Linked DNA regions of Homo sapiens: all the other regions are linked to region 3. Evidence: fine-mapped expression QTL. A gene starts in region 3. Each other region holds a variant in brackets. All regions are shown on one strand. Distances are from middle to middle. Region 1 overlaps SPEG (striated muscle enriched protein kinase). Region 2 overlaps DNPEP-AS1 (DNPEP antisense RNA 1). Region 3 holds the start of SPEG (striated muscle enriched protein kinase).

Region 1 (2,754 bases), 32 kb after region 3:
GGAACCCCGAGGAACCAGTCTCTGGCTAGCTGCCGGCCCTCGCAGCCCAGAGCTGTCCTTGGGGGAGCCAAGAGTGGCAGTGCTGCCCTGACGGTGTGAGAGGCAGCCCTCTATGCAGAAGGGCCCTAGCCAGGTCTGCGTGCCTGTGCGTGCATGTGTGCGTGTGCGTGCGCATGCGTGCGTGTATGTGCATGCATGTGTGTGCATGTGTGTGCGTGTGTGCGTGCGTGTGCATGTGTGCGTATGGGTGTGTGCATGCGTGTGTGTGTGCGCGCGTGTGCGTGCACGTGTGCGTGCATGTGTGCGTGTGCATGCGTGTGTGTGCATGTGTGTGTGTGCGCGTGCGTGCGCGTATGCTGCACTAACCTGCCGCTTGCTGACTGAGGTTTTTGTCTGTACACAGGCGAGTGAGCTCAGGGGGCCACCTGTGCTCCCCCCGCTACCCTCCGAGCCGCGCCCCTGTCTCAGGCACCTCTCGGACCTCGCTGTGTTTCACTGCCTCCTGCCCACAGACCCAGGCCTGCCGGCCCGGACCCGTCCCAGCCTCCCCTCCCCACCCCATGCAGCCCCCAGGGGGATAGCCCATGGGCCCCTGTGGACCCTCCCTCCCCAAGTGGACACATGGCTGTGCAGGCCAGGAGGCCCACAGATGGACTGAGTGCTGGGAAGGGGCGGCTGCGAGGGGTATCAACCCCCCGAGTCTCTCCCTGAAGGGGAGCACCGGGCGAGTGCATGTGCTACTGCTGCTACAGGCCTGTCTATCTGTTTGTCTGTCTGTGTGTCTGTGACAGTCAGGGAAGGATGCCTCGGAGCTGAGGTGGGGTGAGACAGAGTGGGAGAGATTACGGCATGGCATGGAGGGGCCCAAGGAGCAGGGGCTGTTGACAAAGGCCTTACCAGGAAGGGTTAGGACACTGACCATTCTAGAAATGGGTTTCGAATGGCACAACACTTTCTATTTCACAAAAGACCAAAAGCCAGAGGCCCCAGGCTCTGTGCTGATGAACAGCCTGGCTGAGCCCTGGCCCTGGCAGGTTTAGGGCCCATTTGGGGCCCCCTCCTTCTCTGTCAGGGCTGGGGTGCTCTGTCTGGGAATGAGGGAGTTAACCAAGTTTGGTGCAGGAGCAGGGGCAGGGGGCCACTGTAGTGAGCGTGGAGAAATTTGGAAACACCTATTTCTTAACTCAAATAAAGTCCAGTTTGTACCTATCTGGTGTGTTGTGTTTTTTTTTCCCCCGCCGATGTCTCTGCCACCACGTGGCCCTCTCAGTTTCCCCTCCCTCAGTTCCCTCTTGCCTCCATGAATCACCCTCCCTGGCCCAGCTTGGATTGCCATCTCAAAGCCAGGTCTGGGCATGCCTTGCTGTCCTGGCCAGGTGGGTGGGCTTTCCCCATCTCCAGAGAACAAAATGCATCTCTCTCTCTGTGTCTGTCTGTCTCTCTGTGCGTGCGTATGTGTGTCTCCCTCACCCTGTGTGTCTCTGCTCTGTGCGTGGCCCCCGTGGCTGCTTTCCCCTCAGCACACCCTGAAAGCC[G/A]GTCCCTGGCCGTGCTGGCCCCCCTGCAGGACGTGGACGTGGGGGCCGGGGAGATGGCGCTGTTTGAGTGCCTGGTGGCGGGGCCCACTGACGTGGAGGTGGATTGGCTGTGCCGTGGCCGCCTGCTGCAGCCTGCACTGCTCAAATGCAAGATGCATTTCGATGGCCGCAAATGCAAGCTGCTACTTACATCTGTACATGAGGACGACAGTGGCGTCTACACCTGCAAGCTCAGCACGGCCAAAGGTAACTCCCCACTCAGGCATTGGGCTGCCGTGGGTGCCCAAGAGCTGGAGGGAGGGGACTGGGGGTGTACAGTAAGATGCCTGGGAAACAGAGCTCCAACCCCGAGGGGAAGCGGGGGAGGGTGGGAGCTAGTACATTGCCTTGGCCTCAATAAAATAAGCACTTAGAATAGTGCATAGCACAAAGGAAAGGCCGCAACAGGGTTAACTGTTCCTAGGAGGGAGTGCATCTGCTGAGGTGAACGTGGGTTCCCACGCCTGCCCTGCAAGTCACCAGCCATATAACTTTGAACAAGTCACTTCATCTCTCTGAGCTTTAGCCTGTTCATCTGTAGAACAGGGATGGTGATCATTCCTCCTCTGTAGAGGGATTGGCAGGATTAATGAGATAGTTTATGTGAAGAACAAAGCACAGGGCCTGTCAAAGGGCCTTTCCAGGAGAGGGTAGGGCACTGAGCATTCCAGAAATGGGTTTCAAATGGCACACCTGCCTAATAAATGCCAGCCATTGTTACCACTGATGCTATCTCTGACCTGGGCCTGCCCACATGGAAGGGCAGAGATTATGGCACCTGCCTTGCTACGTTGTGGGTGATGAAGACCTAAGCGGAAGCTGGAGGGGCTTTAGAAGCAGGAGGGTGCATCGGGTCAACATAAGGGACCCTTATCTCCTCCAGAAGCTTCTTTGAGGGTTGGTAGGTGGGGCCAAGGGGCATCTGCTCTGGGTCTGGGGAAGGTGGCTAGGAGCATGGGCATGACCCCAGCACAGAGGAGAATTCTGAGAAGTAGATGGAGGAGGGGTGGGCTTGGCTTCTAGGACCCTATCAGAGCTGGGCTGTGCTTCATCCAGGGTGGGCAGGGTGAGGGGAGGAGGGGGGAGCTGGGGCCAGGCCCTGGGCTCAGGCCCTGGGCTCCTATGGAGTCCCCAGCCCACCATGGCAGTCTGCACCCACCCTTGCTGACCTCCACCCTCT
Region 2 (2,754 bases), 38 kb before region 3:
GAAGTGCTTAGGGAGGCCAATCCTCCTCTCCTAGCGCCAGTGTCATCTCCTGTCTTAGGATCCACAGGAAGAAGTCTCTGTCAACTGGAAGTAACCTGCTGGCCTGTGACATGTAATCAATTTTACTTTGCTGCTGCAATCCTCAGTGCCTGGCAGGTAGTGGATATACAATAAACACTTACTGAATTAAAGAAATTTTGAAAAATAATTGTTCTTTGTGAAAAAGGGCCCTCATGGGATAATACTCAGCGATAAAAAGGAACGAGTGGTTGCTAAATGCAACGCTGTGGATGGATCTCAGGTGCCTTATGCTGAGTGAAAAAAATGACAAAATTATAGAGATGGAGAACAGATTAGTGGTTGCTCAGGGCTAGGGAGGATTTGGGGAGGGATGTGTGACTATGAAGGAGTAGCTCAGGAATATCTTGATGGTGATGGATAGTTCTATGTCTTGATTATAATGGTGGTTATGACTCTAACCATGATAAAGTTAGGGTTGCCAAATGAAATACAGAATGCCCAGTTTAATTTGAATTTAAGATAAACAAGGGCTGGGCGTGGGTGGCTTACACCTCTAATCCCAGCACTTTGGGAGGCCAAGGCAGGCGGATCACTTGAGGTCAGGAGTTCGAGACCAGCCTTACCAACATGGTGAAGCCCCATCTCTACTAAAAATACAAAAATTAGCCAGGCATGGTAGCGGGCACCTGTAATCCCAGCTACTAGGGAGGCTGAGGCAGGAGAATCGCATGAACTTGGGAGGTGGAGGTTGAAGTGAGCTGAGATCGTACCACTACACTCTAGCCTGGGCAACAGAGCAAGACTCCATCTCAAAAAAAAAGAAAAAAAAAGATAAGGAATAATCTTTTCAGTATAAGTATGTCCCAAATATTGCATGGGATATGCTTATACTAAAAACAAAATTTAACTGAGTTTCCTGTATTTTCATTTGCTAAATCTGGCAAACCTAGAAAAAAATAGCATCAAACCCTACGCACACACATTTTACCTGTGTCACTTTCCTGAGTGTAATACTGTGCTGTGCTTATCTAAGATGTAACCATCTGGGGAAACTGAGTGGAGGGCACACAGACCTCCATGTACAATTTCTGCAACCTCTTGGGAAGGTAAAATTATTTCCAAATAAAAAGGTTTTCAGAATGGCCCTCAAAGGAAAACCAACTGCTCCTGTTAGTGATGAAAACAAAGAGGTATAGGAAAGTGCTGGTTACTAACCTTGCAAGTTTTATGGAACACTGTAAAACTGGCACTTCACAAAGGTCTTAAGATGTATCCCCCTTGAATGTCAATGCTCTTGTATAGTTAGTGACAGTATAACAAAGTGGTTATGAGCGTGGGCTCAGGATCCACACACCGGGCTCACATCCTGGCTCCTGCATTTATTAGCTGTGGGTCGTATTTGCCGTGTTGTGCCAGAGCCAGCCCCCCTCCCCTCCCCTCCCACCCCCGTCTCTTTCCTGTTCCACATTCAGAGACATCAGACAGGAAGCTTGAGACAGGCCTGCAAGTATTTACACCACTGAGA[C/T]TGGCAAACACTACAAATCAGGGCATTTTTTTTTTCTTCCAGAGAGCTAATTGGTTTTTTGTTTTGTTTTGTTTTATTTTTTGAGACAGAGTTTTGCTCTGTTGCCCAGGCTGGAGTACAGTGGCGTGATCTTGGCTCACTGCAACTTCAGCCTCCTGGATTCAAGTGATTCTCGTGCTTCAGCCTTCCAAGTAGCCTCCATATGATCAAGAATGTGGGTGGAATAGGTTTGGGGAACAAGGAGTTCAGATTAAGACATTACACTGGAGATTCCTATTAGGCCCACACGGACACTGTGCAAAAACAATTGGATATGTGAGATTATATATAGTTCAGAAGAGATATCTGGGCTGGGGGTATGTAAATTTGACAATTATCGGGGTACAGATGCTATTTAAAGTCATGAGATTGGAGATTAGCAAGGGTTACAGGCATGTGCCACCATGCCTGGCTAATTTTTGTATTTTTAGTAGAGACAAGGTTTTGCCATGTTGGCCAGGCTGTTCTTAAACTCCTGACCTCAAGTGATTCACCCGCCTCGGCCTCCCAAAGTGCTGGGATTACAGGCATGAGCCACTGTGCCTGGATGCTTTTCTTTTTTTTTTAATTTTTAATTTTAGATGGAGTTTCAGTATGTTGCCCGCACTGGCGGCAAACACCTGGGCTCAAGCAGTCCTCCCATCTTGGCCTCCCAAAGTGTTAGGATTACAGTTGTGAGCCATCACACCTGGCCCAGAGAGCTAGCTGTTAAACATCTACCATCACACCACAGACTTAGAGCCTTAGCTTCCTCATCTGTAAACCGGTGGAAGATAGTCATAACCTCATAATGTTATGAGGAGTAAATGGGATAATGCACGTAGGGTGCTCATCACTGAGTTCTTCAAATAGTTAAGTGGGCAGTACTTGTGAGCTAGTATTATCTCTCATTTTGAACCGTGAGCAACTTAAGGGCAGGTCGCTGCGCTAATCATCTTGATATCTTTAGTGCCTGGCCTGACATGTAGTAGGTTCTCAATGAATGTTTACTAAATTAGTGAATAAATGGCAAATAATAGTAACTTGGGGCCGGGCGCGTTGGCTCACGCCTGTAATCCCAGCACTCTGGGAGGCCAAGGCGGGTGGATCACCTGAGGTCAGGGGTTCGAGGCCAGTCTGGCCAACATGGTGAAACCCTGTCTCTACTAAAAATACAAAAATGAGCTGGG
Region 3 (2,754 bases):
GGGACTACAGGCATGAGCCACTACACCTGGCTAATTTTTTGTATTTTTAGTAGAGACAGGTTTCACCATGTTGGCCAGGCTGGTGTTGAATTCCTGAGTTCAAGTGATCCACCCACCTCGGCCTCCCAAAGTGCTGGAATTACAGGTGTTAGCCACCGCGCCCAGCCAAGATACAGAACTGTTCTATCACAAAGGTCTCATCTGGACTCTTGATGTTTCTCAACGTGCAACACTTAGGCACATCAGAATCAGTTGAGTCATTTGTTAAATGTGCAGATTCCTCCCAGCTCAGCTGCTGAACCAGTGTGGGGCAAGGAGGCTGGGAATCTGGCCTTTACTTGAACTGGCCGTCATTTCTATCCATCCTCCACTTTGTGGCCGCCAAGAGGATCCTCCTAAGACACAGCTCCCACCGTGTTTTTTCTGCCGCTTAAAGCTGTGTAGTGGCGCCCCCTGCTTTCAGGGTAGAGAAACCAAAGCCTTAGCAAACAAAGCCTTCTCCAGGCCCCACCTCCCTTCTTCCACTCACCCCACCCACTACGCTTCAATCCCTCCAAACCTCTCTAATTCCCAGGACGCCTTTGTTTTCATCAGGCTCATTTTGTTCATGCCGTTCCCTCTGCCTGGAATGTCCTGCCCACTCTTTTCTGCCTATTGCAACCCTATTCCACCACCCATTCTTACAGATGAGGACTTGGAGGTTGAGAGAGGTTTGGTGTCACCCAGCAAGTAAGGGCAGGGCGCAGTGGAGGCCCCAATCCACCTGACTCCCAGGCTCCTGGTCTTACTGTTCGCCAGCTGTAATGGAGGCGCTGGGGGAGGCCATGGTCCCTCTTCGGAGCTGTCTGCTCACCTCCACTTGGGCCTGCCTCCCCATCCACCTCTCAGGCATCTCACCAGGACCGTTCCTCTTCTTCCCCTCCCAGCGAAGCCGGGCAGGGATGAGGGGTCTGAGATGAGGGAGGAAGGGAAATGGGATTGAGCCCAGGGGTAACCTGACTCCCTGCAGTGGGTCGTGTGGGGGCCAGGCACACTACGGAGGGGAAAGCCTGGAACAAATACCGAGGGACTCCCTTAAGCCGGGCCGGCGATGGGGGCTCCTGGAGGGAGAGAAGGAGCCAAGTGGAGTCAAGTCCCTCCCCTGCTGCCCCCTCCCTCCACGGCTCCCTCGCAACCCGAGCCGGGGGGCCTAAAAATAGCCCCCAGGCGCAATCGCCGGCCGCCCCGGTGACCTTCTGGGTAGCACAGGCCGAAGGCGGGCGGGCAGCAGGAAGGCAGGCCGCCGGCCCCCCAGACTTGTCTCCTAGGGCACCGTCCCGCGGGTGCCCCCGTGGCCGCCCAGTTCCGGCGTCCCCCCAGCCCAGCTCTCAGTGGCCATGCAGAAAGCCCGGGGCACGCGAGGCGAGGATGCGGGCACGAGGGCACCCCCCAGCCCCGGAGTGCCCCCGAAAAGGGCCAAGGTGGGGGCCGGCGGCGGGGCTCCTGTGGCCGTGGCCGGGGCGCCAGTCTTCCTGCGGCCCCTGAAGAACGCGGCGGTGTGCGCGGGCAGCGACGTGCGGCTGCGGGTGGTGGTGAGCGGGACGCCCCAGCCCAGCCTCCGCTGGTTCCGGGATGGGCAGCTCCTGCCCGCGCCGGCCCCCGAGCCCAGCTGCCTGTGGCTGCGGCGCTGCGGGGCGCAGGACGCCGGCGTGTACAGCTGCATGGCCCAGAACGAGCGGGGCCGGGCCTCCTGCGAGGCGGTGCTCACAGTGCTGGAGGTCGGAGGTAAAGGGCAGGTGGGGGCCGCGCCCGGCAGGGGCGGGGTGCTCAGAGGTAGAAAAGGGCTGCCCAGGCCACGCGGGTAAGGTACTGGATACTGGTTCCGCCGCCTTCTTCCCAGGTGCCCTGGCTTCTCGGCTGCCCGGCCCCAGAAGTGAGACGAAGAGCCAAGTGCAGGGAATGGGGTGTCAAGGTAGAGAGGCTCCCCACAGGAAGGTCAGAGGTCAAGGGGCAGCAAGCGGTTGATAAGCCAAGCCTGAGACCCACTCCCACCTCTCAGGGAATTCTGGGGTGGAAGTTCTTCTCCTCCTGTGGAGAAAAGCCTCCTGGGGGAAAGGGTGTCCTTCAGTTCCATGATTTAAACTTGAGATTGACACTCCGATCAGCTCCTTAACAGGGGAGTCCATGTCCGAAGGAGGGGGCCAGCTCCTCTGGTCCAGGCTGCACTGTTGAAGGGATGGCTCAGAGCTCCCTGCAGGCCATTGCCGTGGCAGGGTTGATGTGGTCAGCTCTAGGTGGGGTGTGGAAGAGGCCTATGGTTGGCCACGTGTGAACAGGGTCCAGGGTAGGAGGAGGTGGAGCCCGAGCCAGGGCCCCATGGGCATGAATGGAGGTGAGTGCTTGAGAATCCACATGCAGGTGTGTGCCTGCATGGGTGCTGTGGAGGGCCCTGGATTCTGTGTGGTGGTGCAAACAGGTGAGGTATGGGCACGTGGAGCTGGAATGGGAAGCTCCTGGACCATGTCTACCTGAGCTTCCAGAGTGGATGTTTCCAGAGCATGGAAGGGGGATGCTATGGACCAGTGCTTGTCCCCCGCCCATAGATTTCCAGGTGCAGTGTGAAGAAAAGGCTGAGGGTCTGAGGCAGAAGGGGAGGGCAAGAGGCTGGGCCCAGTGCTCATGGTCCAGCTGGGGCTACCATGGAGGCCAGGCCAGGGCCGTTAGCCTTGGATCCATTTGGGGGCTTCCTTTTTGATTTCCTCAGTCCTTGAGTAA

What was found.
Region 1: its variant is fine-mapped to the expression of SPEG in whole blood (TOPMed, PIP above 0.99).
Region 2: its variant is fine-mapped to the expression of SPEG in whole blood (TOPMed, PIP above 0.99).

What each region holds. Positions count from the first base shown.
Region 1 is chr2:219,465,654-219,468,407 of GRCh38, forward strand. SPEG (striated muscle enriched protein kinase) reads left to right here. Exons shown (of 41, transcript NM_005876.5): 10 at 1,521-1,781. Among named protein-coding and RNA genes, the nearest start is that of SPEGNB, 29 kb to the right of the region's middle. RefSeq lists enhancers at 1-153, 154-819, 1,067-1,609. The variant G/A (reference allele first, on the strand shown) is at 1,536.
Region 2 is chr2:219,395,756-219,398,509 of GRCh38, forward strand. The region is part of intron 2 of DNPEP-AS1 (DNPEP antisense RNA 1); the gene reads left to right. It also overlaps a transcript of DNPEP not described here. Among named protein-coding and RNA genes, the nearest start is that of DNPEP-AS1, 8.6 kb to the left of the region's middle. The variant C/T (reference allele first, on the strand shown) is at 1,547.
Region 3 is chr2:219,433,602-219,436,355 of GRCh38, forward strand. SPEG (striated muscle enriched protein kinase) reads left to right here and starts at 1,242. Exons shown (of 41, transcript NM_005876.5): 1 at 1,242-1,764. The coding sequence starts at 1,377.